Regions from separate parts of the Homo sapiens genome. Here region 1 is reported to be linked to region 2. The links are microRNA targets in miRTarBase. Many come from high-throughput screens and were not tested one by one. Region 2 holds a microRNA gene; the other region holds the end of a gene's coding sequence.
What was found. Region 2 holds the annotated microRNA hsa-miR-1537-5p (AGCUGUAAUUAGUCAGUUUUCU, at 9,293-9,314, opposite strand). A microRNA usually pairs through its seed, bases 2 to 8, with sites in the 3' UTR of a target mRNA and lowers its output. Matches are read on the target gene's strand: a 7mer-m8 pairs with bases 2 to 8, a 7mer-A1 pairs with bases 2 to 7 and ends in A, and an 8mer does both.

Region 1 (15,193 bases), not on the chromosome of region 2:
CACGTCTGTAATCCCAGCACTTTGGGAGGCTGAGGTGGGCGCACTTGAGGTCAAAAGTTTGAGACCAGCCTGACCTATATGGGGAAATCCCGTCTCTACTAAAAATACAAAAAACCTGGGCGTGGTGGCACATGCCTGTAGTCCCAGCTACCGGGAGGCTGAGGTACGAGAATCACTTGAACCCGGGAGGTGGAGGTTGCAGTGAGCGGAGATAGCACCGCAGCACTCCAGCCTGGGTGACAGAGTGAGACTCCGTCTCAAAAACAAAACAAAACAACAAAAAAGACCGGAGTTCAAGGGTAGCTGTGGCGAGGAAGAGGGGAGGGAATCAGGGACTCAAGGAGTGGACTGGAGGTGGGGGCATTAGAGGTGGCCGGGTTTGCAGGGTGTTTTTGGGAGCGGGGCCCAGGGCCTATGCAGGACCGGGTCCCGACGCGCCTTTTCTTGCTGAGCAGAACTTCACCGCGTCGGGAGAGGCGGAGGCGCGGCGCTGCGCCCGACGAGAGGAGCTGCTGGCTCGAGGCTGCCCGCTGGAGGAGCTGGAGGAGCCCCGCGGCCAGCAGGAGGTGCTGCAGGACCAGCCGCTCAGCCAGGGCGCCCGCGGAGAGGGTGCCACCCAGCTGGCGCCGCAGCGGGTCCGGGTCACGCTGCGGCCTGGTGAGTTAGGGGAGGCGGGGCCAGGCCAGAGGTCTAGGCTGGCGTTCCAATGCGCTCTGCTGACCCGCCCGCCGCCCACCCCCTAGGGGAGCCCCAGCAGCTCCAGGTCCGCTTCCTTCGTGCTGAGGGATACCCGGTGGACCTGTACTACCTTATGGACCTGAGCTACTCCATGAAGGACGACCTGGAACGCGTGCGCCAGCTCGGGCACGCTCTGCTGGTCCGGCTGCAGGAAGTCACCCATTCTGTGCGCATTGGTGAGCCGAGCGCTGCCTCCCGCCCTGTTAGCCCTTGCCTATTCAACCACTGCCCTAGCCTCTGCCAACATCCTGGACTCACAAGGGCCCCAACTTGCCCTCCCAGTTGTTGACAGGCCTAGCCAGGCCACAGGTTCGTTCCTGCATCTCTCCCTAGACACCCATCTTCTAGGTCAGAGCTGGAGAGGACTCAAGAGACTATCCGTTTTACAGGCCTGAGACCCAGCGTCTGGAGAGACTGTGCTCAGGCACTCTCTGGGCCTGGACAGCTGCCCTGGGCCTACCAACCTGGAACCTGCCCTGATGCAAGTCTCCCTGGACAAGACCTAGATGCCACTGTCCCTGGCTCCACATTCTGTGCCAACTCTCCTCTATTCAAATTTCCTTCCTTTGCCTCATGCTGCTACCATATCCTATACCCGGGCCTTCTTCCGCCTTCTGGAAGTTCCCATTTGCCCAGGAAGTTGTGTCCTCCTCTTAATGTCTTCTACCTGCCACTTCCCTGAGCCAGTGGTCTCACTGCTTTGCTTGCCAGTTACCAGGTCCCTGCCCCCTAGGTGCACCCTCTCCCATCACCGTCCTCCCCACCCCACTTCCCATAGAGCGCTCTCATGGGTCCTCTGTTGCTGCCCTGCGACTTCTGGCACAACCTTCATTCCTCTCCTCTCCCAGGTTTTGGTTCCTTTGTGGACAAAACGGTGCTGCCCTTTGTGAGCACAGTACCCTCCAAACTGCGCCACCCCTGCCCCACCCGGCTGGAGCGCTGCCAGTCACCATTCAGCTTTCACCATGTGCTGTCCCTGACGGGGGACGCACAAGCCTTCGAGCGGGAGGTGGGGCGCCAGAGTGTGTCCGGCAATCTGGACTCGCCTGAAGGTGGCTTCGATGCCATTCTGCAGGCTGCACTCTGCCAGGTGAGGAGGTGGGGCGGGGATCTGAGCCTGGAGGTCTGTTTGGGAACAGGACTGCCCCTTATGGTTGTGTAGTGCACAGTTCTAGGGGGTGCCATTCATACCATAGTTGCTGTAGTTTGTATATTTAGCAATTACCTGGTGGGTTGGAGTAAAATATCTTGAGGAGGAGGCATGTTTTTCGAATTCACAAGTAAGCCTCCACTAGCAGCAGCCTTCTTTAGGGGGCTGGAGAGAGCAGGGAGAAGCAAGGTACTGGAGGCAAGGGGATGGACAAGCTGACTCAGAGTGAGGCTGGCCACATTCTTGGCTCACAGAGCTGGCTGGGGTGGCTCAAGGGCCATGCCCAGGTGCATAGCCTACCACCCCCACTGTAACTCAGGAGCAGATTGGCTGGAGAAATGTGTCCCGGCTGCTGGTGTTCACTTCAGACGACACATTCCATACAGCTGGGGACGGGAAGTTGGGCGGCATTTTCATGCCCAGTGATGGGCACTGCCACTTGGACAGCAATGGCCTCTACAGTCGCAGCACAGAGTTTGTGAGTCCCTATTGTCACCCTGCCTCTCCCCATTTCAGCCACACCTCTTTCCTTCCAGGACTCCCACTCCCAGCCTTACAGTCCTCACCAGTAACCACCCTGTAGACACCCTGCCATCTTCTCCAGCAGTTCCTCCTTTCAGCTGCCGAGACAGGACACCTTTGTCACCCCATTCCCTACCTCCTTCCTATTCCATAGCAAGCCTCCAGGGCTCCTCCAGCTGGTGGAACCTTGGTTCCTGGATTCCCTGGGCTGAGGGCACCTTGCATGTTGTGGGGGAAACCTGTGGGGCTCACCTTGTCCCTGCTCCCTGTCCCAGGACTACCCTTCTGTGGGTCAGGTAGCCCAGGCCCTCTCTGCAGCAAATATCCAGCCCATCTTTGCTGTCACCAGTGCCGCACTGCCTGTCTACCAGGTGAGAGCTGTCTACATGTCAGATCCCCCAGCCCCATCCCAACCTTTCTCAATTCCCCCAAAGATACATTCTCCGTCCCCCATATGCCCTCCTTCCAGACCTCCGGGAGCCCATTTTCCTAGAGCTGTGACCCACCATTTCCCTTAACTCCCCAAAACTCAGGAGCTGAGTAAACTGATTCCTAAGTCTGCAGTTGGGGAGCTGAGTGAGGACTCCAGCAACGTGGTACAGCTCATCATGGATGCTTATAATGTGAGGGGCCAGGGGAAGGGGAGATGGTGAGGGTGGGCACTAGGGAAAGGTGGAAAGGGGCCCTTGGGTGGGGTGGCAGAACTAAGAGGAAATGGTCACTTTTTGGTCTAACATTCCACAGCTCCTACCTATAGTCTGCATGTGGCTGTCATTAACTGTTCAATCTTACATTCATAAATCTTAAAACATCTGACATGCAGACAGCATGGAGCTCTGCTCTGGGCAAGAAAGGAAAGTTTCAATCACTGAGCTTTTATTTCATGCGCCCACCATCCTAGGTGTACATACTGTTTGCTACTTCATTTAACCCTGCCAAAAGCCTTGCTTCATAACTGTTACCATCCCTATTTTACAGATGAGGAAACCCACACAAGGAGGCTAAGTGACTTGTCCAAGGTCACAAAGATAACAAACAGAAGGGCTGGCATTTGTCCCCAGTCAGTCTGTACATAAACAATGTGAGATCTGGAGCCTGCTTTCACTAAGTTTATAAATAATTCAGAGCTATTCTTCACAAGAACCATAGAATTTTACAGGTAGAAGGAACCATAAAAATTCTTAGTGGTTTAGGTCTTACCTCTGCAACTAGGCTGTAGGCTTCTTGATAACAGGGAGCATCTCCTAAACCTATGGCAAGAAAATCTGAGACAGTATCAAATTTCCCAAGATAAACTCTGTAATGAATCTGCCCTTTAGACCTGGCATGCACCCAGGTTATGTGTCCTGATGTGGGGCTTCACAAACATGGTCTCTGTACATTTACAGCACCTGGCCAGCCTGTGACCCTCAGTGGCCCTTGCTGGCAGCTGCACTGAAATGCTGTATTAGAGGCCTCTGGATCCTGTATGTTCTATGCAAGGTTCTCACGGGTCCTCCCTCCAGAAATGCCTCGACTGGGCAGAATGGAAGGAGCCCCAGGTGGCAGAGGGCAGGGTGCTGGCAGAATTGGGAACACCTGGAGAGGACATAAGGTGGGGTTGGAGTCCTTTTCTGCCTTCACGTGGTTATCCACTCGCTCTCTTCCCATAGAGCCTGTCTTCCACCGTGACCCTTGAACACTCTTCACTCCCTCCTGGGGTCCACATTTCTTACGAATCCCAGTGTGAGGGTCCTGAGAAGAGGGAGGGTAAGGCTGAGGATCGAGGACAGTGCAACCACGTCCGAATCAACCAGACGGTGAGAGCCAGCAAGCACAGGCAGAAGGCGGGCAGGGGGAGGTGGGAGTGGGAAATTAAGCAGGCAGGAAAAGATGGGTGGCAGGTACAGGGAGTGACATGAGAGCCTGAGGTAGTCCTCCATCCATCCTTCCTGGAGCAGTCTGAGTGGCTTCCTCAGGCATGTTTCTAGGAGTTGGGTGTTAACATGACCCCATCCCTTCATTTACTAAGGGGTGAGGTTCTGGATGATTGGTGAGTTTGGGGTATGTGTGTGTGCATGTGTATAACCATGGCCTGATTCCTGCCTCTTCTCAGGTGACTTTCTGGGTTTCTCTCCAAGCCACCCACTGCCTCCCAGAGCCCCATCTCCTGAGGCTCCGGGCCCTTGGCTTCTCAGAGGAGCTGATTGTGGAGTTGCACACGCTGTGTGACTGTAATTGCAGTGACACCCAGCCCCAGGCTCCCCACTGCAGTGATGGCCAGGGACACCTACAATGTGGTGTATGCAGGTGAGGGCCTCCTCTTCCCTTCAACCACCTGGCTCCCAACAACCAACCAACCCTGGCCCGTATTCCTCCGCTGCTTTCCATCCCCCCCACAGGAGTCTCCTCGACATCCCGACTCCCCACTCAGTTTCATCCCTTGAAGCTTCCCATGTATGTCCAGGCCCTCCCCCTGACTGGGGCTCCCTCCACTCTCTCACCCCTCAGTGTTTCACTATACTTAACATCCTTTCAGCTGTTTGTCTGTCTCCAACTCTTTTGAGAACTTGGGTTTAGAGGTTCCTGGGAGAGACAAGTCAGGGGTGATCAAACCCTCTGACCTACTTCTCTCCTTTGCCTTCCCCTTCCAGCTGTGCCCCTGGCCGCCTAGGTCGGCTCTGTGAGTGCTCTGTGGCAGAGCTGTCCTCCCCAGACCTGGAATCTGGGTGCCGGGCTCCCAATGGCACAGGGCCCCTGTGCAGTGGAAAGGGTCACTGTCAATGTGGACGCTGCAGCTGCAGTGGACAGAGCTCTGGGCATCTGTGCGAGTGTGACGATGCCAGCTGTGAGCGACATGAGGGCATCCTCTGCGGAGGTACCTGGAGCCTTGGGGAGAAGGGCGGGGTCTGAGAGGCCTTCCCAAGGCACTTAGGCTCTGGGAATCTCCTGGCATGGAAGGCAAATATCAAAAGATTCCGGTGTATGGGTTAGAGGGTGTGGTTGGCATACTTCAAAAAGATTGGATGCGTGGGCTTGTCGTGCCACATGATGGCCAACTGTGTGTGTGGAGTATGGTTGTCACCCTCTGCATGGCTCTACCCCAGGCTTTGGTCGCTGCCAATGTGGAGTATGTCACTGTCATGCCAACCGCACGGGCAGAGCATGCGAATGCAGTGGGGACATGGACAGTTGCATCAGTCCCGAGGGAGGGCTCTGCAGTGGGCATGGACGCTGCAAATGCAACCGCTGCCAGTGCTTGGACGGCTACTATGGTGCTCTATGCGACCAATGCCCAGGCTGCAAGACACCATGCGAGAGACACCGGTGAGGCCTCAGGTCTTGCATCTTGGGAGCAGGGGCACAGTGGGGCTTGTTGAGCTACTCCCATCTGCCTACTCTCCGTCCTGCTTGTAGTTGGGCAAGGGGCATTGGGTGACAACTGCCCAGCTGGTAACCTATTGGCATCTACTACACAGGGACTGTGCAGAGTGTGGGGCCTTCAGGACTGGCCCACTGGCCACCAACTGCAGTACAGCTTGTGCCCATACCAATGTGACCCTGGCCTTGGCCCCTATCTTGGATGATGGCTGGTGCAAAGAGCGGACCCTGGACAACCAGCTGTTCTTCTTCTTGGTGGAGGATGACGCCAGAGGCACGGTCGTGCTCAGAGTGAGACCCCAAGAAAGTAAGTGGGCAGGGATGCCACAAACCCTGGAAGTTTGATGGGCAGGGTCTCAACTCTGGGGATGCAGAGTGAAGATAATGGGAAACAGGCTGGGGGCTGAAGCAGAACTGTGAATCCAGGACAAAGGCAGAGGCAATTGAGCAAGTGGACGAGGCTAAGGCCCTGGGCGGTGAGGATAACCTTGGACCTCCCTGGGTTCCCTTTGCTTTCAGTGACAGACAGGGTTGGACAGGCTGGACACACTGTGAGCAACTGATGATCTGTCCCTATGCTCCAGCTCCCACAAGTGTGTCTGGTTTCTTGTTCACAGAGGGAGCAGACCACACGCAGGCCATTGTGCTGGGCTGCGTAGGGGGCATCGTGGCAGTGGGGCTGGGGCTGGTCCTGGCTTACCGGCTCTCGGTGGAAATCTATGACCGCCGGGAATACAGTCGCTTTGAGAAGGAGCAGCAACAACTCAACTGGAAGCAGGTGAGGAGACTTCCTGGTTAGGCCCCTTTTTAGCTGTTCCCCCACCACAAGACCAGCCCTGATTCCTCCCACTGGGTTCCCCCAGCCCCTGGCACATGTAACCAACCCCTCTGCTAACTTCCATCAGCTCCTAGGATTCGGCTCAAGGCTGGCCTCTTAGGTCTAGAAAGGGGACGAGGAATCCTGGGATTTTTGCTTATAATCTGCAACATCTTTCTCCAGGACAGTAATCCTCTCTACAAAAGTGCCATCACGACCACCATCAATCCTCGCTTTCAAGAGGCAGACAGTCCCACTCTCTGAAGGAGGGAGGGACACTTACCCAAGGCTCTTCTCCTTGGAGGACAGTGGGAACTGGAGGGTGAGAGGAAGGGTGGGTCTGTAAGACCTTGGTAGGGGACTAATTCACTGGCGAGGTGCGGCCACCACCCTACTTCATTTTCAGAGTGACACCCAAGAGGGCTGCTTCCCATGCCTGCAACCTTGCATCCATCTGGGCTACCCCACCCAAGTATACAATAAAGTCTTACCTCAGACCACAGCTGTCACTTTGCTTTACCTCATCAAGGCCAAAGCAGACTGTTTATAGCCTGGGCCTCGGGAAAGCTCTTGTCCATCCTCCTCTTGCCACCTGAGGGCAGGGAGAGGTGCCCAAGCGCGAATGTGCAGGAAACTCCCGGGGTGCACCCTGGGACCCAGGAAGCCAGGTCTGGAAAGGGCCTATGAATTCTCAAGTGCTGCGGATGCAGGGGGGTCCCAGGTCAGAGACACTGCATCTGTTGGTGTCTAGCCTCCTTCCGTCCTGCTGCGTGTGCTTTTTCGTCTTGCTCAGAACTGATGCCCTGTTTTTGCTCCTACTTGCTTGTTCCTCTGTGGAGAAGGGGTTTTAAAATGGCTTATAGGGTGCTGGAAGTTGTGGGGTGATTATGTAGGGAGAAAAAAGGAAAACAACTAAAACCAGTATGAAAAAGCTTCCCCAAAGAGGAGATAGTATGTAGAAAAGCCCCATTTTCCTTTTATTTAAATATCCTAAATATATCACGAAGGAACATACACTGCACTTTAATGGTAAAAAGATACAAGTTTATAACATCTTATAAAAACTACCATTTAAAAGTGATCTTGTCCATTTGATATTCCCCTCCCCCATAGCAAAATATTATTTAAAAAAAAAAAAAACAAAAAACAGGGTGGAGAGGAGGATAGGAAGGGGACAGTTGATAAAACCCCAGGGCCACAGCAGAGGCAAAGGGCATCTGGGGAGAGGGTTCGAAGCTGTGGCGGACTCCACTAATGTAACCCTCCAATGTCAAGCCATGGGCGTGATCAGTAGCTAAGTGATGACAAGGCTGTTGGGGGTGGACGGAAAAGACTTGGGGCAAAGCAGACTGTTTATAGCCTGAGCTGGTAGGGCCTGGTGCAGCAGCCTACCCGGAACTGGCACTACTCTTTCCCAGGTTCCCTGACTCTCTATCCTGGTCTCTGAGAGCGTGCCCTACTTCCGTTTCCCCCACTCCAAACACACCTGAGGCATCTTCCAGTGCTAGGCCCCATGCTGGCCAGCAGGGGTCGGGCATTGGGCCCAGGAGCCTCTGCAGCGGTGTGAGTCAGTGGCTTCCCTGGGGTATCCGTGGGGCTCCCGGGCCCTCTGGATGCCAAATCACTCCTTTCACTGCTTTGCGCCTCTCTTCTCACACATGCACTGCCCCAGACATCAGCGCGGGAACTGAACCAACCACCTGCTCCTGAGTTTCCCTCACTGGGTCCTTGGCAGGGGTGGCTCTGCTATGGCTGTTCGCACATACTCTCTGAAGTTCCCTCCCTCCCACCCACCCAGGCAGGAAACCAAGGTCTGTGGGAACCCAGGGCACCTTCTGACCCAGTACACACATTAGTACACATAGGGGCACAGGTCACTCATGTGAGACTTACATGAATCTCTCCACATACACCCCTATCCCAAAGAGACTAGCTGTAAGTGGCAGGGACAGAGGGCTCTCATTTTCAAAAGCATTTTTGGGAGGATAGTTTTCTAAATATTTTAAAATGGTTTACAGGGTACTGGAAGATGTGGGGTGAATCATCCCAGAAGTGAAGGACAGGAAAAGCCCAGATCCAGCAGAACCCTTGAACAGGAAGGGGGCTGGCTCACATGCAGAAAGATGCCCCTGCTTGCAGGGACCACAGGGCTGATCCAAGGACTGAGGTCTAAGTTCTGGACCACATCAAATGGGAGTGTCAGCATAGAGCTGTAAGAGTACATGGCAGCAAACACTCCTCAGCGTCTCCCCAAAAGGATCTCAGATGCTGTCAGGGAAAATCGAATGGGTGCCATGCCTGCTTTCTTTTTCCCTGAAATACTCATACCACAGAGGTATGGACAACCCCCTCCCCAACCCCACCCCTCCAGAATAGGTAACAGCCAGGAATCATTGCTGGTATCCATTCTTTACATTTTCTGGGAAATGAAATCATACTTTCAGGAGTTTCCCATCTCAGACCCTACTGACAGCTTGGCACTCAGGTTCAGCCAGTCTCCATGATTACTAAGACAGTTCCCGTACCCGCCACAGGTCAGGTCAGGTTACAGTGGGGGTCAACCAAACCCCAAAACTTCCCATAAGGATTCTTTCTTTAGCAGAAAGAAAAGGTTTATTTCACCTTAGAAAATTCATGTTCACAAGCCCTGGCTTGGGTTAGAAACATCCTAACCACCAGGCTGTTGAATTCATCTTAAAAAAAAAAACCCTCCAAAACAAAAGCCCTTCTGTTCCCCAAATTGTGTTCTTCAGCTCCTGCTGAGACCTCAAGCACCCTTCATGTTTGGGCAAGAGGAGGCTATTTTCCACTCATCCTCCCTGAAGGTGAGGGCCAGAGAAGGGTTTGGCTCAATAATATGCCATCTCCTGCAAGCATACAAATACATGCATTCATATCTCACACACACTCTCTCTCACACACACACACACACCCGATTACTTTTTTGGGAGTGGACAAGGTGGTGGTATTGGAGCAGAGAGGAGCAAAGAATATGGTTAAGAATGGAACCTACATTAGGTTTCTTCTTTAGTCTTTTCTCTGCAGCACCCCCACCCCCATCCCCCACACTCTGTTGGGTAGGGATGGCCATCAGGAAGCAAGCCGAGATCTTGTTTTTTGGGACCAAAGGACAGACCCCTCCCTACCTCCTCTACCTGAATACAGTGATAGGACTTGGGGAGGGAGAACAGCTCCTACTGCTCAACAGGCATGTCAGAAGACCCCAGATTCCTTTGTTTCTTGAGCAGCTGTTAGCCAACTTGGGACCAGTCTTGGGTTGTTCCTAAGAGGGCACAAGGAGAGAGAACCCACTTTGACTTCCATGACTCCTTGCTCAACACATCTGTCTCACTTTAGGAGTCAATGGCAGCGAGGTAGCCACATACCATCTCCAAGACCGACTCCCCAAAAAAAGAAGAAAAGGGCTTCATGGGCCACTCTCACCCAAGTTTCCTCCTAAAGGCATTTGAGCTGATGCCATCAGGTGCCAATGTGACATGGGCCATGACAACACCCACTGGCACAACTCTTCCTTTTCCCTTGAGGAAGGAAGAGGTGCCATCCACTTTTTGGATCCAGCCCTTGTCTGCTCCACCCCGTTTTTCCTTTTGTCCCTACAGTGTATAAGGAAGCCAAAGTAAGCTCAGCTGCCATTCCTGACCTTATTCTTCCTCAAAAAGGAGGCGAAGTGCAGGATTGTGAAACACTGAGGAGCTACTGCAACTAAAAACCCAATTTTTGGGGAGAGCTGGACCAGCTATAGTCCCTACTTTGGACCAGGACTCTTATGCCTCTGGATTACCTGTATCCACAGTTTACCCGCTGAAGTTGCTTTTGGATAAACAAAAACAAGAACAGAACAAACAAATCCCCTTCCCCAATCTTTTCCATTTCAGCTGCCAGCTGGAGTCCAAGGTTGTGGGAGCCACACTTCAGTCTTGGTCCTGTACCTTGAGTCCCCACCTATGACCTCAGCCAAGGGTCCAGGGACTAGCTCCCCTACCCAGGAATGCTGTAAGAACTTCCCCGAGATACTCATAGTCTCAGATTATTTACAGAGCTGAGGTTCTGGGGCCACTGTCCCCTGATGCACTCTTCTGGTCTCCTGGGTCCACTCCTCCAGGAGTGGGACAGGTTCACATGGGGCGGTGGTGGGACCATCAGACCAGAGGGGGTGTGCTCTTCGGCAGGTTCTTCTGATCACTCCCACCACCCGGGGCCCCTTGCGCCTATAGAGAAAACTGCCCGTCGGAAGTCTTGGACTGGCACCCTTGGCACATCCGTTTGTGTCTGAGTAATCGATCTGTCCGAGAAAAACACTGAGAAGAAAGGGAGGGTTAAGTGCCTGAGCAGACAAACGCAGCTACCTGTTGGCTAACTCATTCCTCTCACAGGAGGCAGATACCACATTCTCCATCCCCTCAGCACGTGCACAGACAGCAGGAGCACACGGTGGTGGAGAATCCAAGCTCTCAGGCCAGACCGCCTGGGGCTGAATCTTGGCTCTATCACTCAGCAGCTGTGTGACCTTGGGCAAGTTACCTAACAGCCCAGAATCTGCATACTCATCTGCAAAACTGCAAAGCGAGGCTAAAAGTACCTACTCACAGCACAGCTGCTTTATTCATCAAAGATTTATTGAGTATCTATCTCAAGGCAGATACAGAGTAGAGAACCAGAGGAACAAAGTCTCTGCCCTCATGGAGCTTTTATTCTAGCGTCTGAAGATTCAGTGTAAGAGTGCAGAGCAAAGCTTGGGACCTAGCAATGCATCCAGGAAGTGTTAGCTATTATCATTTCTCATCTCTTGTTCTTGTCTTGTTTTGGCCCCAGCTCTTACATTCTCATCAGATCAGATACTGACCCCCAGGGCAAAGATTGTATCTCTTCCTCCAAAGTGCATTAGCTCTGAAGTTGGACTGAATCCCAGCTCTGTTCGTGATCTGCGGTGTCCCTGGGAAACTTAACTTCTCTGAATCTCAATTTTCCCATACGTGAAATAAGGACAATACAGCTACCTTAGGGAGTCAATGTGAGGATTAAATAAAATCATCTATGTAAAGTATGCTCTCACAGTGCCTGGCATAGAGTAAGTGATATGGAATGCTATTATTATTATTATTACAATGTTCTAATTGCTGCTCCCCATGATCAGCTGCATAAGGCCAGACAGATGCACTTCACCCCGATGTGTTAACTATTATGGCGAGTAACGCTGGTGGCTCTTTTGTCAGGCAGGAGTGGAGGGTGGCCCTGATTCTTGGGGAAGGAAAAGTGTGTGTGGGGTATTGTAGCAGGGATGAGCCTTACCTGATGACACCGTTCACACTGGTAAGGCTTTTCACCACTGTGCACACGCTTGTGGCGTTCCAGGTGGTACTTCTGGATGAAACGCATATCACATATATCGCATTCAAATGGCTTCTCACCTGGCCCAGGTGGACAGAGAAGTGAATGTGGGGAGGTATGTACAGTAGGGACCTCATTCCAGTTTTCTCAGAAACTTTAACTCTTAGTAATGTGTAGACACCTAAGTGATCATAAATGGGGAGAGGTCCCCAAAGGTGCTGGTCTCAGTGACACCAGATACAAAGCCATGCAATCTCTCTGCTTCATTGACTTATCTTCTTCCTTCATTTCTAATACTTACCCATTAAAATAAACCCAACTAGAGCCACAAACAGACATGGAATACAAGCGATAGACTATTCTCCCCCTTTTGAATATAAACAAGAGACTTACCAGTGTGAATAAGGATGTGCCTCTTTAGGTGGTAACTGCTCCGAAAGGCTCCAAAGCAGTGTTCACAAACAAAATTTTTGGGAATCTTTACTTGAAAAGAACCATTTTGTTCCACTACCACCACCTGGGGGCAATAATCAGGCATGTCATGAGGCCACCACTGCCCTCTTCCTGGAGACACTGTTCTACTCTGGGTCCACTTCCAGCTGTTGGAGAAAGGAACCTCTCTGATGCTGTCTAAAGGTGCTGCCATCTCCTGTACTCCATGGAGGTAAGAGACCCTTTGGGGAAGGAGGTGGAGTGGGTAAGCTGTCTATCCTGTCAAACCCAGCAGTCTGAGTATGACTTGAGCTGGAGCCTGCCTGCTCCCATGCCTCGGGATCTGGGATCTCATGCTCCCCAACCTGTACCATTACTGTTCCAGCAAGGCAGGAGATCAACTACCAAGGTAGTCTCTGGATGAAATCTGGGGGACTCACTCACTGGCTATCAGAGATCAAAGCATCTAGGGAAAGCTCCAGGTTACATGGTAGAGGGAAGAAGGAGGAATATTACCCCATTACCAAACTGTATGAGTTTGGGGGATCACCCCATTACCTGCCTTTTTAACAGTCTTTTTTGAATGAGAGGCCTCAGACAAGCTGTCATCATCTTTGCGGCTCCGGGACTTATCACTGTCTTTTCGGTGACCCTTTGAAGACAAATCAAATCTAAACTCATAGCCCATCTCGGAACATGAGATGAGACCCAATGCAGCTCTCAGACAAAATTCATAAATGAGAGTAAACCACCTGCCCCGAAAGCTTAGAGGAAGTATACAACTATTTCCTCTCCAAGCACCTGGTCTTAAAAGAGTTGAAGGCACACAAAAGACCTTCCTTAGCTTTCTGAAATACCAATGTTCATCCATTCCCCAGTTGGATCCCCTTGCCCCACTTCCCTATGAGGAAGCATCAAGGAATCAGAGCTTGGTATCTCCTGGCAGAGAGCTTGGGCCACCCGATCCCCAGGTGCCACAATGGACTCAAGCGCTGTACCTGACTCGAGCACCTCAGCACATCAGGGCTACCTGCCCGCTCGCCATTCTCGGCCTGCTTGCTGGCAATCTGGCTCAGCATCATCTTCTTGCTGGCTGCAGTGGGAACCAAACTCACACCTGCTAGGCCTTCACAAGCCAGGAGACTTGCCTAAGTTGAAAGGAGATGAGGTGTCAGGTCACCTGGCAGGGCAGGGCAAAAACAGACTGCCATCCTCTATAGAACTACCTTTTACACCCTGCTACAAACTGCTTCTCTCCAGGGAATGTCCCTCCTCACTGCCAAAGCCTTGCTTCCTTCAAGAGTCCTCCCTAACTCATCTCACCAGGAACGACTTATCTTGTCATCCTTCAGCATTTAAATATAGATCAAGTAAATAATCAAGTATTACTGACACCTTTGTCATCAGCACTAGGCAGTGTGTGGCTACATATTTCTTTGAAGGTATTTCTAGGCCTTAACTGTGAGTGGGTATGAGGTTCCATCTTGCTAACCCACTGACACAGGAGATTCCTTCAGGACCTTCCTCCTTCCTCCCTCAACAGCCCTCAGCTGGGCCGAGTGCAGTGGCTCACACCTATAATCCCAGCACTTTGGGAGAATGAGGCGGGCGGATCACGAAGTCAGGAGTTCGAGACAAGCCTGGACAATAGGTGAAACCTTGTCTATACTAAAAATACAAGAATTAGCCAGGTGTGGTGGCACACACCTGCGGTCCCAGCTACTCGGGAGGCTGAGGCAGAAGAATTGCTTGAACCCGGGAGGCGGAGGCTGCAGTGAGCCGAAATCGCGCCACTGCACTCCAGCCTGGGCAACAGAGCGAGAATCCCTCCGTCACTCACACACACACACACACACACACACCCCTTAGCTTCAGAGCGCGCGCGCGCACACACACACACACACACACACACACACACACACACCCCTTAGCTTCAGAGCCCACTTTTGATTGGCAGATCTTGCTGGTGCCAACTGTATTTTCTATCGGTTTGTTTCATTTTTTGCTTGTTGGTTGAGACAGGGTGTCACTCTGTCGCCCAGGCTGGAGTGCAGTGGCACGATCTCGGCTCACTGCACTCTTGACCTCCCTGGCTTAAGCGATCCTTCTACCTCTACCTCCTGAGTAACTGGGACTTCAGGAGAATGCCACCACACCCGGCTATTTTTTTTTGTATTTATAGAGACGGGGTTTCACCATGTTGCCTAGGCTGGTGTGGAACTCCTGAGCTTAAACAATCCTCCAGCCTCAGTCTCCTAAGGTCCTGGGACTACAGGCTATTTCTCCCTTTAGATTTTAAACTCCCTAAGTATTTACCAATTGCAACTGATATGATTTTTGGAGTTCAGCATTTCTCTTGACCTCTTAGGCCATTTATATGTGTGCTTGTATGATCACATTTTTTTTCACATTCCTTGCTCCATATATAATTTAAACAATTACTTAAGTAAGGTATGTTTAAGTAAATTTCCAGAAAACTGCTACATTCTTCAAACTGACTTCGGTTAGCCGGCATTAAAGAAAATACTTTTCTTACTGAAAAAAAAAATTTTAAGAAATCGTTGGTCAGCAAACTCACAAATTTATGAAGAAATTCCTTTTAGATGATCAGTACGTTCTGGGACCCCTCCCTCCACCTTCTGGGACTTTGGAGTGAAAGATCCAGAGTTAAAATCTTAGCTCAGCTGTTTGCACTCTATAATCTTGGGCAAGTTATTCCACCTTTGCAAGCCTTAGTTTCCTTACATGAAAAATGCCTGTCATAATGCTTATCCTTACAGGGTTGATGAAAAGTAAACTAAGACGTAAAACGCTTAACAGTGTCT
Region 2 (15,193 bases):
AAAAAGAAGTAAAAGGAAAAAACAACAAAAAAGGTTATAATAATGATATTTATTCTTATAGGTTGATTAGAAAGCATACTTTTTCCTCATCAAACAGTAACACCCAAAAGACTTGTTAGTCTTTCACCAAATGCCAAAAAATCCTGGAAAATTCCCTTTTAAAGTAACACTACGTGCTTGCCTAATTTTCTCAATTCAATAGTATTAGAGAAGTTGCCATTGGAAAGACTTTTTTTCAAAAATGTTATGTGCCAAAGAGGAGACTGTGATAAATCAGGGTTATTTTAAGAATTAGGCAAAATAATGTACAGAATAATAAGTGCCCAATAAATTCTGTTAAATCAAAATCTGCCATGATTTGAAGCAGCCTTCTTGAAAATAAAGGTTAGTTTATATGGATTTAACTATTCTAAATCCCAGCTCTCCAGAGTTTAATATATATTGATAGATTGATTAGCAACTTTCTCAAAGATCTCATATAGTCTTTACAACACATCAGTAAAAATAAAAAATCTTTATGAGAAAAAAAGATAACACCATTTATATCATTTCATAAATGACATGAATAAAGGAATAAACATGAATAACTTAGAATCTTATGTTGTCATAATGGCAGAAATTTTAGATATCATATTCTCTAACCCCACATTCTACAGTTGAGAAAAACTGAGGCCTACAGGTCCAAGGTCACAGAAATGATTAGTCACTGGACTCTACTATCCCAGTTGTCTTGGAGTTACATATGTTTTGGGGGGTAATTAACTAAAACTGAAATAAGCAAGTTTAGAAGATACATAGCCTTTCTTCTTCTGTCGATTAGAAATTAGACAACAGGCAAAGGCGTTTCCCTAACACTAAATACTACCTCTAAATGGTATCCAGAACCTTTACTCAAGTCCACTGGATTGTAATACATACACCTGGAAACAAGATTTTTAAACCTCTCTCTACAAACTTTTTAGACTACAACACAGAACTATATGTCTGAAATGCAGGACACTGGTGGGGGGAAGGGGACCAAAGAGGGGGAGGGGGAAACTGCACTTGTTCAGATTAATATAATTCTCTTTAAAGAATAAGCCAGTTAAAACATATCAGTTGAACTGTACAATATTTAAGCAAGAAAATATCTGTTAATCTAAGCTTTACTGTGTAACTTTTTAGTCAATACTAGATGTGTTAAGCAATAACCATCAGAATGATTCCTAACTAAAGAGAGGAGCTCCTGGGATCATGGCGAAGGGAGGCAGGACTAGATTGCAGCTCTGGACAGAGCAGCATGTGGTGGCTTGCATTGTGAATTTGAGCTCCAGATCCACTGCAAGAACAAACCAGCAATCCCGAGAGGACCCACAGACCCTCTGAAGGAAGCGGATTGCTCCTGCAGGCCCCAGGAGACCCCCAAATACTGTGAGTGCCCCAACTGTGCAAGTGGGAAAGGGAGACCCTCCTCTCCTGAACACACACCCCCACTGGAGAAGCTGAAGGTCTGTTTGCTGGAGAAGTTTCTGACCTTACCTGAGCTGAATCAAGTTAGAGAGCCAAGCCTAGTGAATTACAGGGGTAGAGAATGCAGCAGAAAGGCCCTGGGAGCTCCCTGGGTCCTTAAGTAGCCCATTCCTGCCTGGCACCACAAGGATCCATTGGGAGGGTGGCTAGAGGAGCAGGGGGTAAAACCCCACAGGGAAAGGAATTCTCTAGCCTAACTTTCTAACAATTTGAACGCGGTGAGAAGCCTGCTGGCCAGAACTCCGGGGAGGGTGCAAATCCAGCTCGCAGACTTCACAGGTGGAAGGAAGAACTAAAGCCCTTTTCTTTCGTAGCTGAGAGGTGGATAGCCTCGGGGAAGTTTTCAAGCCCATCTAGCCCTCAGCCTGGAAACAGACTCCCGGCAGTTAGGGGGGACACGGTGGGAGTGAGAGTGGCCCTTCTGTTTGCGTGGGAGCTGGGTGAGGGCTCCGACTGCTGGCTTTCCCCCACTTCCCTGACAACCTTCATGACTCAGCAGAGGCAGCCATAATCCTCCTAAGTACACAACTCCAGTAAACTGGGAATCTCACCCCCAATTCCCCACAGCAGCCCCAGCACGACCCAACCAAGGAGCTGCTGAGCTCATACACACCTAGCCCCACCCCCACCTGATGGTCCTTCCCTATCCACCCTGGTAGCAAAAGACAAAGGGCATTTAATCTTGGGAGTTCTAGGGCCCTGCCCACCGCATATCTTTCTCTGTACTACTACAGCTGATGCTTTCTGGAAAGCGCCACCTCCTGGCAGGAGGCCAACCAGCACAAAAATAGAGCATTAAAACATGGCCAACCAGTACAAAAATAGAGCATTAAACCACCAAAGCTAAGGACCCTCACGGAGTCCACTGCACCCTCCACCACCTGCACCAGAAAAGGCGCTGGTATCCATGGCTGAGAGACCCATAGATGGTTCACATCACAGGACTCTGTGTAGACAACCCCCAGTACCGGCCTGGAGCCAGGGAGACTCGCTGGGTGGCTAGACCCAGAAGAGAGACAACAATCACTGCAGTTCGGCTCACAGGAAGCCACATCCATAGGAAAAGGAGGAGTATACTACATCAAGGGAACACCCCGTGGGACAAAAGAATCTGAACAACAGTCTTCAGCCCTAGACCTTCCCTCTGACAGAGCCTACCCAAATGAGAAGGAACCAGAAAACCAACCCTGGTAATATGACAAAACAAGGCTCTTCAACACCCCCCCAAAATTTCTCTAGTTCACCAGCAATAGATCCAAACCAAGAAGAAATCCCTGATTTACCTGACAAAGAATTCAGGAGGTTAGATATTAAGCTAATCAGGGAGGGACCAGAGAAAGGTGAAGCCCAGTGCAAGGAAATCCAAAAAATGATATAAGAAGTGAAGGGAGAAATATTCAAAGAAATAGATAGCATAAAGAAAAAAAACAATAAAAAATTCAGGAAACTTTGGACACACTTTTAGAAATGCAAAATGCTCTGGAAAGTCTCAGCGATAGAACTAAACAAGTAGAAGAAAGAAATTCAGAGCTCGAAGACAAGGTCTTCGAATTAACCCAATCCAACAAAGACAAAGAAAAAAGAATACGAAAATATGAACAAAGCCTCCAAGAAGTCTGGGATTATGTTAAATGACCACACCTAAGAATAATCAGTGTTCCTGAGGAAGAAGAGAATTCTAAAAGCTTGGAAAACATATCTGGGTGGATAATTGAGGAAAACTTCCCTGGCCTTGCTAGAGACGTAGACATCCAAATACAGAAGCATAAAGATCACCTGGGAAATTCATCTCAAAAAGATCTTCGCGTAGGCACATTGTCATGAGGTTATCCAAAGTTAAGATGAAGGAAAGAATTTTAAGAGCTGTGAAACAGTAGTACCAGGTAGCCTATAAAAGAAAACCTATCAGATTAACAGCAGATTTCTCAGCAGAAACCCTATAAGCTAGAAGGGATTGGGGCCCTAACTTCAGACTCCTCAAACAAAACAATTATCAGCCAAGAATTTTGTATCCAGCAAAATTAAGCATCATATATGAAGGAAAGATACAGTCTTTTTCAGACAAACACATGCTGAGAGAATTCGCCATCACCAAGCCACCACTAGAAGAACTGCTAAAAGGAGCTCCAAGTCTTGAAACAAATCCTGGAAACACATCAAAACAGAACCTCTTCAAAGCATAAATCACACAGGGCCTATAGAACAAAAATGCAAGTTAAAAAGCAAAAACAAAACAACAACAAACAAAAGTACAGAGGCAACAAGGAGCATGATGAATGGAACCATACCGCACATTTCAATGCTAAAATTGAATGTAAATGGCCTAAATGCTCCACTTAAAAGATACAGAACCACAGAATGGATAAGAATTCACCAATCAACTATCTATTGCCTTCAGGATACTCACCTAACACATAAGCACTCACATACGGTAAAGGGGTGGGAAAAGGCATTTCATGCAAATGGACACCAAAAGCCAGCAAGGTATTCTTACATCAGACAAAACAAACTTTAAAGCAACAGCAGTTAAAAGAGACAAAGAGGGACATTATATAATGGTAAAAGGCCTTGTCCAACAGGAAGATATCACAATCCTAAACATATATGCACTTAACACTGGAGCTCCCAAATTTATAAAACAATTACTAATAGACCTAAGAAATGAGACAGCAACACAATAATAGTGGGGGACTTCAATACTCCAATGACCAGACAGGTCATCAACACAGAAGGTCAACAAAGAAACAATGAATTTAAACTATACCTTGGAACAAATGGACTTGACAGATATATACAGACATTTCATCCAACAACTGCAGAATATACATTCTATTCAACAGCACATGGAACTTTCTCCAAGATAGATCATATGACAGGCAACAAAACGAGTCTCAATAGATTTAAGAAAACTGAAATTATATCAAGCACTCTCTCAGACCACAGCGGCATAAAACTGGAAATCAACTCCAAAGGGAAGCTTCAAAACCATGCAAATACATGGAAATTAAATAACCTGCTCCTGAATGAGCATTGGGTCAAAAACGAAATCAAGATAGAAATTAAAAAATTCTTCGAACTGAATGACAATAATGACACAACCTATCAAAACCTCTGCGATGGAGCAAGGGTGGTGCTAAGAGGAAAGTTCACAGTCCTAAATGCCTACATCAAAAAGTCTGAAAGAGCACAATCTAAGGTCACACCTCAAGGAACTAGAGAAACTAGAACAAAGCAAACCCAAACCCAGCAGAAGAAAGGAAATAACCAAGATCAGAGCAAAACTAAATGAAATTGAAACAAACAAAAAAAATACAAAAGATAAATGAAACAAAAAGCTGGTTCTTTGAAAAGATAAATAAAATTGATATATCATTAGCAAGATTAACCAAGAAAAGAAGAGAGAAAATCCAAATGACCTCATTAAGAAATGAAATGGGAGATACTACAACTGACACCACTGAAATACAAAAGATCATTCAAGGCTACTACGAATACATTTACAGACATAAACTAGAAAGTCTAGAAGAGATGGATACATTCCTGGAAAAATACAACCCTCCTAGCTTAAATCAGGAAGAATGAGATACCCTGAACAGACCCAGCGAGATTGAAATGGTAATTTAATAATTACCACTAAAAAAAAAGTCCAGGACCAGACAGATTCACGGCAGAATTCTACCAGACATTTAAAGAATTGGTACCAATCCTTTTGACACTATTCCACAAGAAAGAGAAAGAGGGAACCCTACCTAATTCATTATATGAAGCCAGCATCACACTAATATCAAAACCAGGAAAGGACATAACCAAAAAGAGAAAACTACAGAACGATATCCTTGATGAACACAGATGCTAAAATCCTTAACAAAATACTAGCTAACCAAATCCAAGAACATGTCAAAAAGATAATCCACCATGATCAAGTGGGTTTCATACCAGGGATGCAGGGATGGTTTAACATACGTAAGTCAATAAATGTGATACACCACATAAACAGGATTAAAAACAAAAATCACATGATCATCTCAATAGATGCAGAAAAAGCATTCAACAAAATCCAGCATCCTTTATGATTAAAATTCTCAGCAAAATCGGCATACAAGGGTCATACCTTAATGTAATAAAAGCCCTCTATGACAAACCCACAGCCAACATAATACTGAATGGGGAAAAGTTGAAAGCATTCCCTCTGAGAATTAAAACAAGACAAGGATGCCCACTCTCACCACTCCCCTTCAACATAGTACTGGAAGTCCTAGCCAGAGCAATCAGACAAGAGGAAGAAATAAAGGGCATCCAAGTCAGTAAAGAGGAAGTCAAACTTTCACTGTTTGCTGATGATATGATTGTTTACCTTGAAAACCCTAAGGACTCCTCTAGAAAGCTCACGGAACTGATAAAAGAATTCAACAAAGTTTCTGGATACAAGATTAATGTACACGAATCAGTAGCTCTTCTATACACCAACAGCGACCAAGTGGAGAATCAAATAAAAGAACTCAACCCCTTTTACAATAGCTCCAAAAAAAAAAAAAAAAAAAAAAACTTAGGAAGACACCTAACAAAGGAATTGAAAGATCTCTACAAGGAAAACTACAAAACACTGCTCAAAGAAATCACAGATGACACAAACAAATGGAAACATATCCCATGCTCATGGATGGGTAGAATCAATATTGTGAAAATGACTATACTGCCAAAAGCAATCTACAAATTCAATGCAATCCCCATCAAAATACCACTATCATTCTTCACAGAATTAGAAAAAAAAATCTAAAATTCATATGGAACCAAAAAAGAGCCTGCATAGCCAAAGCAAGACTAAGTGAAAAGAACAAATCTGGAGGCATCACATTACCTGATTTCAAACTATACTATAAGGCCATAGTCACCAAAATAGTGTGGTACTGGTATAAAAATAGGCACATAGACCAATGGAACACAATAGAGAACCCAGAAATAAACCCAAATACCTACAGCCAACTGATCTTTGACAAAGCAAACAAAAACATAAAGTGGGGAAAGGACATTCTTTTCAACAAATCATGCTGGAATAATCAGCTAGCCGCATGTAGGAGAATGAAACTGGATCCTCATCTCTCACCTTATACAAAAAATCAACTACACATGTACTAAGGACTTAAACTTAAGACCTGAAACTATAAAAATTCTAGAAGATAACATTGGAAAAACCTTTCTAGACATTGGCTTAGGCAAGGATTTCATGACAGAGAACCCAAAAGTAAATGCAATAACAACAAAGATAAATAGCTGGGACCTAATTAAACTAAAGAGCTTTTGCATGGCAAAAGTAACAGTCAGCAGAGTAAACAAACAACCCACAGAATTGGGAGAAAATCTTCACAATCTATACATCTGACAAAGGACTAATATCCAGAATCTACAACAAACTCAAACAAATCAGTAGGAAAAAAACAATCCCATCAAAAAGTGGGCTAAGGACATGAATAGACAGTTCTCAAAAGAAGATATATAAATGGCCAACAAACATATGAAAAAATGCTCAACATCACTAATGATCAGGGGAATGCAAATCAAAACCACAATGTGATACCATCTCACTCCTGCAAGAATGGCCATAATCAAAAAATCAAAAAACAGTAGATGTTGGCATGGACGTGGTGAACAGGGAACACTTCTGCACTGCTGGTAGGAATGTAAACTAGTACAGCCTCTATGGAAAACAATGTGGAGATTCCTTAAAGAACTAAAAGTAGAACTAACATTGGATCTAGCAATCCCACTACTGGGTATCTACTCAGAGAAAAAGAAGTCATTATTTGAAAAAGATACTTACACACGTTTATAGCAGCAAAATTCACAATTGCAAAATTGTGGAACCAACCCAAATGCCCATCAATCAACAAGTGAATAAAGAAACTGTGGTATGTAAGTATGTATGTATATGTGTGTGTATATATATATATATGATGAAATACAATGCAGCCATAAAAAGGAATGAATTAACAGCATCTGCAGTGACCTGGATGAGACTGGAGACTATTATTCTAAGTGAAGTAACTTGGGAATGGAAAACAAAACATCATATGTTCTCACTGATATGTGGGAGCTAAGCTATGAGGATGCAAAGGCATAGAATGATACAATGGACTCTGAGGACTTGGGGGGAAGAGTGGGAGGGGGGCGAGGGATTAAAAGACTACAAATATGGTACAGTGTATACTGCTTGGGTGATAGGTACACCAAAATCTCACAAATCACCACTAAATAACTTATTCATGTAACCAAATACCACCTGTACCCCAATAACTGATGGAAAAATTAAAAATAATAAAAATAAAAAGGTTTATTGGCAAAAAAAGAATGATTCCTAACTAAAGACAAAACAAAGTTCATTAGGAATATTATTTTTATATATTTACTTTTATTAATATAAAAACCTTTATAATCTATTTTATAGTGGATAATAAATACACTCTCGAGAATACTGAAGCAAAATCTGGTACTCACTAAATAGGGGAAATTAAAATATTTAATGGGCTTTGTGTGATCAAATTCCTCTTGGAATTTAAAATGCAGATCAGGGAAAGATATGACACTTAAAGTTCTAAATTAAATAACTGAATAAGAAAATTCATGAAAACCAATTTAACAATAATATAAATGGTTTCACAAACTGAAATCTTCCATAAGACAAATCATGATCCCATATTTATTGACTACTCACCATACTTCGTGGTATGTTCAACTTTCATTGAATCTATTAACTTTAAAAGAAATGATAGCAGTTGTTTAGCGCCCAGGCCCTTCTTGACAAATACTGAACTTGCTTCTCTGAAGAGTGCATTAAGGAGCATCTGACTAGAAGTCAAGATGTCATGTATTCTTAGGAAATAAAGATTGTGGTCTCCAGTTCCGTAGATACTAACATTGGGACAGCTTCAGGAAGGAAATGCTGTTAAGGCTTTTAACTACAGACCCTACAGAATCTTAGTAACAACTCATGCCTCAATGGGAAAATGAATTCAGAGTTCCAACTTGAATTGCTAGCAATATGTTTTGCCCCATTCTCCCCCAGCCCCCTGCCTGTCAGGGAGGGAGAAGAGATTCCTGTACCTCAAAGCCATTTGTGGTAGCTCCAACAATCTGGGGAAAGGGCCCCAAAAGTAGGATAGTACCACGTAAGGCAAACAGTAAGCCAGTTAGACATGTTGAGGTAATCTCAGCACTTTGCCGGACCTTTTTCCCGGGGAAGTCTCACAATGCAACACTCAAGTATACTGTAGTTTATTTTGTCTGTAAGGGCAAATCTTATGCATTCTAAACATTCTCAACAACCATCTTAGAAATGAGCCTCTGGAACACAGTCATATGTAAGACGTAACTGCCATACTCAAAAGACATTTTTTCAACTAATACTGAGGTAAGTGACAAGTTGATTGACAATAAAGGAAAACTGCCAGAGTTCGCATTTAATAAATTATTTTAAAATGAGAATCCATTCTACAATCAACTTTCAGAGAGTTAAACGATCTCTGGGTTAATGACCATATCACCTCCCTCAAAATTTTACAGATAAACTAAGGCAGACAGCAGTTAAGAGATTTCCCAAAAGTCAGAGGACTTAACAGCTAGGTCTGCAGAGTCCTATCCAATGTTTTTCCTAATACTGCATACAATTTTTGACAGACTACTCACAACCAAACTATATCTTTCAGAATTCTACCTTTCAGAGCATTTTAGCGATTAGGTCTGGCACAACTTACAACTGTAACTAGACGGTTTTCTGTGTGGACAGGACAGAAAACTGACTAATTACAGCTGTACTTAGTGCCAACTCCCAGGCACGCCTCCAAGCACCACAAACTTCTTGCCCCCCCACAAACTTCTCAAGATGTTTTACAGCTTTGTTATCTTTTTCCATGTTTCCACATTGTACATTTATACCAAAAAGTAAATGACTTGGAAGAAAAATGTTGCTCCTCTTGAAAAGAAGTATGTACATTTTAACAAGAAGTAACACCTTCAGCTCTAAAGAGCATCAGAAATTTCAGCATCGGAGGGTTAAGAATTGGCTCTGAACTAGATGTTCTATATTTAAAATGTGGGAATATAATAATCCTTAACTAGTGAATATGGAAATAAATGGTTGTGCTGTTCCTATATTTATTCTGTATTATGCATTTAAGCTAAGTTAAAGTAGAAAAATGTGTTTAATGAAATATTTCCAATTTATGTAGAATTGTGTAAAGAAAACTAAAAAAAAAAACATGTATAACAGCAGTAAGGCAGTAGTTCTGGGGGAAGAATGGAAATCTAAGACAGCAATGGCCCAGAAAGGTGTACATATTATTTTTTCATATTTCAGGGTGTCAATAAACAACATTGCCTATTTCGCTACCCCTCTCCCCAAGCCCATGAAATCTTGGTTAACATGCCATTCCGGCTGCCTTGAAACCTGGGGCGCTGACCTAGGGAGGAGAGGTTACTCTGGCTCCTTGCAGAACAAAGCTGGCCAGGAAATAAAGGAAACTCAGGCATAGGGCAGCCAGGCAAAATTTTAATAGAAATTCAGAGGAAGTCACACTAAAACGCACCAAACTTAAGCCTTTCAACAGGTAGTTCATTTTTCCTAAAAACAAACAAATTCGGCAACCAGATATCTCAGGAAGAACCTGTGTTTGGCCCTGAGCACCGCAAAAGGGTAGAAATTCTGAGATATTGTAGCTATAGAGAGAGAGACGGCATTTAAAGGAACTATGAAGGTTCATCCAGGTAAATCATCTCCCCGGCTTTCTATCCCTGTTAGAAGGAATGTGCTAGATGTTTTACACTGACTACTACATCCCTCCTCAAAAGAGACCTTTGGATTTTTATAGCATGATGATGATGATGATAATCTGGCTAACACCTACAGTGATTAATTACTACACATCAGGCACTATTGTAAGCACTCTAGGTAAGTAGAGTAGTTAGTTTAATCCTCCTAACAATCTCCTAAGTAACATTATTATCCCTAGTTGACACATATTGGAAACTGAAGCACAGTAAGGTTAGGTCATTGCTCAAAGTCACAGAGTTACTAAGTGTCAGGGCCAGGATTCAGACTCATGCAATCCCTTTGTATTCTATATACAAATTTCTATTCTCCAAAGCAGACATTGACTTCTCTCTCCAATAAGCCAGCTCTTCCTTCTTCATTCCTCTTTCAGTAAATGGCCTCTACCCAGTGACTGAGGTGAGAAACCAGAATAGCACTTCATCTAGTGCCTAGTCAATTCTCCCTCTTGACCACTTACTGGTTCACCTCTGCATCTGCTGCTCTATGACCTTGGGTACTCGACTTCCTCTTTCTAAGCCTCAGTTTCTCATCTATACAACTGAGTTCATAAGAGTAGCTGTAGTTGTTGCGAATATCAACATTAAACGAGATAATTCATGTAAAATGCATAGCACAGTGCCTGGCAGATTGCAGGAAAATCAATTATTATTAGATATTATCATCATCACCTTGAATCTGGTCCTTCCCCCTAATCTTACACCTAAGCATCCTTAGACCTTCAACTCCTCTCTTACTTGCAATACTAACAACCTCCTACTTGATCACACTGTCTGGTCTATTTTCTGTTTAATCTAAATATGCTACCACTAAAAATGTTACTCATATCCCTTGGAATGACAAATGTCACTCCAATTCATAGGGAAGAAGATCCCAACTGCTTATTATCAAAGTATGCAATACCTGCTACAATTTAGCTTTTCCAAACTCCCAACACATAACACGTTGTACCACCCTGCAATTCCTTCAAAGGGTATACACTTTCTCAACTAATTTTTTATCATGTTGCTATGGAAATTCCCATTAATTCCCAATTAATTACTTTTCCATATGCCTCTATCTTATCACTCACCACACTGTACTGTATTGTTTCTTTTAAAACTAGATTATACTTTTCTTAAGAAAGGAAACCAGATCTTATTTGATCAGAAAAATATGAGCATCTAACACAGTACCACAGATACAAGAGTTCAATAAATAAACACCAGTTCATTTAATACTAACTTTGATAGAAAACATTTTAATATTCAAATACCTTTAGGAAATGTTCCCCCAGGTAAGGCTCTGAGAAACAGACACATTTACAAAAGCCACTCTCTATTCCACAATTAGCATTTAAGGCACTACCGAAACACCTTAAAAACCTTACCAAACATTTTTCATATTAAAACCAAAAACCTTCAGCAATAAAATTTTGGATGCTTATTCATACTGTTAAAGATAATCCAAAGCATACAGTTTAAAAGTTCTTGAAAATCAATTATAAGCATGATAGTTTTCCATACCTCCTGAGGAATGCTAAAAACAGCTTGGAGCCTTATCCTAAATGTGAAATGAAAATAATAAAAATAATTTATGTAGCTGTACTATAATAATAAACTTTTTTCATATATATTTTGCATAAGGTTAAAGATTCTGCAAAATAAGTTTTAGAAGATTCTGCAAAATAAGTTTTAGACATACTGAACACAGATATTTATAAGCTTTAAATACACCTTGCACGTATAGATAGCACGTTTCCTCTTATTTCATAATTCTTAAGAAACAAAAAAATTAGCTTCCCTTCAAAAGAAAGAAAAAACAATAATTGAGGCAGTCAATTACAGAAAAATGTGTTTACTGTTATAAAACATTTCACACCAAGAAAGATAACCACAAGTTCAAACTCAGATCTGGTGGCTGAATCTACTGTTCTATAACCATGTGTGAAGATGGATAGTTAGGGGAGCAGAGCACAGAACAGAAATAAGAAAGAAATATATATAAATATTTTCTGAGCACAGGCATTTCAAATTCCACCCACATAATTTTTTTCCCTACCACACTGGGTAGTTTCTATCATACTCGGTAGTTTCTATCACTGTGGTCTAAATGTAGACTTGTATAAAGAAAAAGGGTTAAAGTTAAAGGGGTAAAATAAGGAAATTACATATTGAAAACCAAACACTATGGGTTTCTATGATGCACAGACATCTTTTGGTTATGAGATCACTTTCTTAAAATACATTAAAATTTTCAAATGGTTGGTAGTATAACAGAAAGAATAGTAGACTAAAAGTCAAGAGATTCTCAGTTTTCTGTTTTGCCTTGTTCTCTTTAGGATCTCAGGCAAGGTGCTTAACCTTTCTGATGCCCATTATTCTTACAGATATTTAAAAAACAAAAACTAGATGATCTCTAAATGCCTCTTTGGGTTGTGAACTTTTATGAGAGTACAACATTCAGAAAATGTAGTAAGTATCAACATTAATTTAAGATTAAAATTATACATCTTCAATGTTTCCTTAAACTGTGCATAATCAGGTTTTATCAAAACTGCCTTACTGGGTTCTGTTTTTTAAAAAATAAGGTGAAGAGAAAATAAATATATTTCAGTAATGTGGAGCAAATGACTTTAGAAACATTCTCCAAAATGTTTAAATAAGGCTAATAGAGAAATATTTCAAGACTAATTATCAGTATTACTGTCTTTGGAAGCATCACTAAGCAGAAATTCAGGAAATGGCAAAAGATTTTAATCTTGAACAAACTCTAAGTCATAATGCAGTAAAGGTACAATGAAGTCTAGACACTTAAATATGAAAAGTAGGATAAGAGTGAGCTGATGGATATAAGCAGCTCTTACAAGTTACACAGGATATACTGATTTTTTTTTTTTTTTTTTTTTTGAGATGAAATCTCACTCTTGTCGCCCAGGCTGGAATGCAGTGGTGCGATCTCGGCTCACTGCAGCCTCCACCTCCTAGGTTCAAGCGATTCTCATGCCTCAGCCTCCTCAGTAGCTGGGATTACAGGTGTGCGTCACCACACCTAGCTAATTTTTTGTATTTTTAGTAGAGATGGGGTTTCACCATGTTGGCCAGGTTGGTCTTGAACAATAGGCATAAACCAGAGCCATCTTAGGCAAATCAAGATGTTTGGTCATACCAGTGATAAGTAACCAGAGAAGCTATCACCTTAGAAATGGTTGTGGATGTTGAAAATAAGTGAATTGAGCCCTCAACTAGATGGGCATGAGTGGAGATTACTAGCCTAAGATGACTTTCTCTAGTCACATGATATTGCCCTGAAATATCATGGGCTATTTCTTCTGGGTACATCTTCCTATATAAGGATGTTGGGATTTGAAGAAAGTTCTAGATTCATCTCTAGATGAACATTCAGAAGTCATTAACATATAGGTGGTATATGAAAGCTTAGAAATAGATGAGATCATCAAAGGAAAGCACAAAGAAAGAGAAATGAGGAGGAGGAGAGAATCCAGAGGCTCACCAACATGAAGGAGCTGGCAAAGAAGAATCCAGCCAATGAGACTGAAGAGGAGTGGTTAGAGGGGTACGAGGAAAACCAAAAAAGAGGGGGGTGTGTCTGTGGGTGTGTGTGCGCGTGTGCACACAGGTGTATATATATACACACACACACGTATATATACACAAACATATGTAAATACACACACACACACACACACACACACACACACACACACACACATATATATATAAAATTTCACAAGCCAAGAGAGAAGAGAGGGTTAAGAAATGAATGGTTAATATTTTCATATGCATCACTTTGGGGGCCAGGAAGACAAGTCAGTATTCTCCTAGTTTCCCAAGATGACTTGTAAGTCATTGTTATTCGATTTTATCCACTTTTAAGATTACATTATAGCTATATTTATAGTTGTCACCTACTGACCTTTGAGTCAGCCATCTCCATTTACTGAGAATTTTGTCGTATGACTATCTTCCTTTCCACACAGAAGCTATATATTCTGGGGACTTCATTATCCATAAGAACAATTGATTCCAACACACAAGACTTAATGCTCTTTGCCTTCTTCTTCAATGACCCCTACTTTGCAGAAGGCTAGCATGGTTTAGTAGTCAGGCATAAGTGCTTCAATGCTAGAAGGACTCAGAAAGACTCAGGTACTTCGTAGCTGTGAGTCTTGGGAAAAGTTACTCAATCTCACTGAGCTCCAGTTTCCTCATCTGTAAAATGTTGATACTAATATGTGAAACATAAGCATGATAACCTATGGAAAATATTTACTATAGTGACTACTACACAGTGTTCAATGAATAGTAGTTTTTATTAATATTAATATTGTTATAATTAGCACTATTAATCTTGGCTATCCACCCATCATTGGTCATTCTTTGGCCCTTATCATCACCTGAAACTGCTAACTCCAGAATCTTAAATTGAGAATTCTCACATCTATGTGCCAATTTTTCCATCTCTAGTACTCTTTTATTTCCATTAATCCTGCACTTGACTCATTTAGATTCTTCATCCTCTTCATTATCCACATTTACCAGCCTTGTCTTGGCTTGGCTTTGTTCCTTAATAAGCAGGATTCCTATGGCTCAACCCTTCAATTAGCAGCCTCATTACCACTCTCTATTCCTTGACTTCCCACTACCCCCTACTCAAGTTTTCCATCACATCTTCCCTTCCAATCTCAATCCAGGTTCAGTCTACTTGTTTTCTGCATTGTTATGGGGGTGGGGAAGGGGAGTGGTCCAAGTTCAGTCTATTTGTTTTCTGCATTGTTATGGGGGGCAGGGAAGGGGAGTGGGAGCAGGCAGGCTGCTGGAGAACACTGCTTAACCATCCTGCTGGCCTCTGTACATTTGTGAT

Region 1: the mRNA of ZNF740 is a reported target of hsa-miR-1537-5p. Seed matches in the 3' UTR shown: 8mer at 10,598-10,605, 7mer-m8 at 8,797-8,803, 7mer-m8 at 8,520-8,526 and 7mer-A1 at 3,851-3,857.

The regions. Positions count from the first base shown.
Region 1 is chr12:53,183,214-53,198,406 of GRCh38, reverse strand. It overlaps ZNF740 (zinc finger protein 740), which reads right to left. Exons shown (of 7, transcript NM_001004304.4): 3 at 13,367-13,516; 4 at 12,931-13,020; 5 at 12,330-12,453; 6 at 11,898-12,016; 7 at 3,265-10,906. The coding sequence ends at 10,817. It overlaps ITGB7 (integrin subunit beta 7), which reads left to right. Exons shown (of 16, transcript NM_000889.3): 4 at 456-657; 5 at 744-914; 6 at 1,587-1,828; 7 at 2,208-2,366; 8 at 2,686-2,781; 9 at 2,944-3,033; 10 at 4,063-4,209; 11 at 4,506-4,699; 12 at 5,044-5,267; 13 at 5,497-5,716; 14 at 5,869-6,077; 15 at 6,388-6,548; 16 at 6,771-7,084. The coding sequence ends at 6,851. Among named protein-coding and RNA genes, the nearest start is that of CSAD, 9.9 kb to the right of the region's middle. RefSeq lists a silencer at 8,028-8,322.
Region 2 is chr1:235,843,745-235,858,937 of GRCh38, forward strand. It overlaps MIR1537 (microRNA 1537), which reads right to left and starts at 9,316; the gene lies at 9,256-9,316. The region is part of intron 1 of LYST (lysosomal trafficking regulator); the gene reads right to left.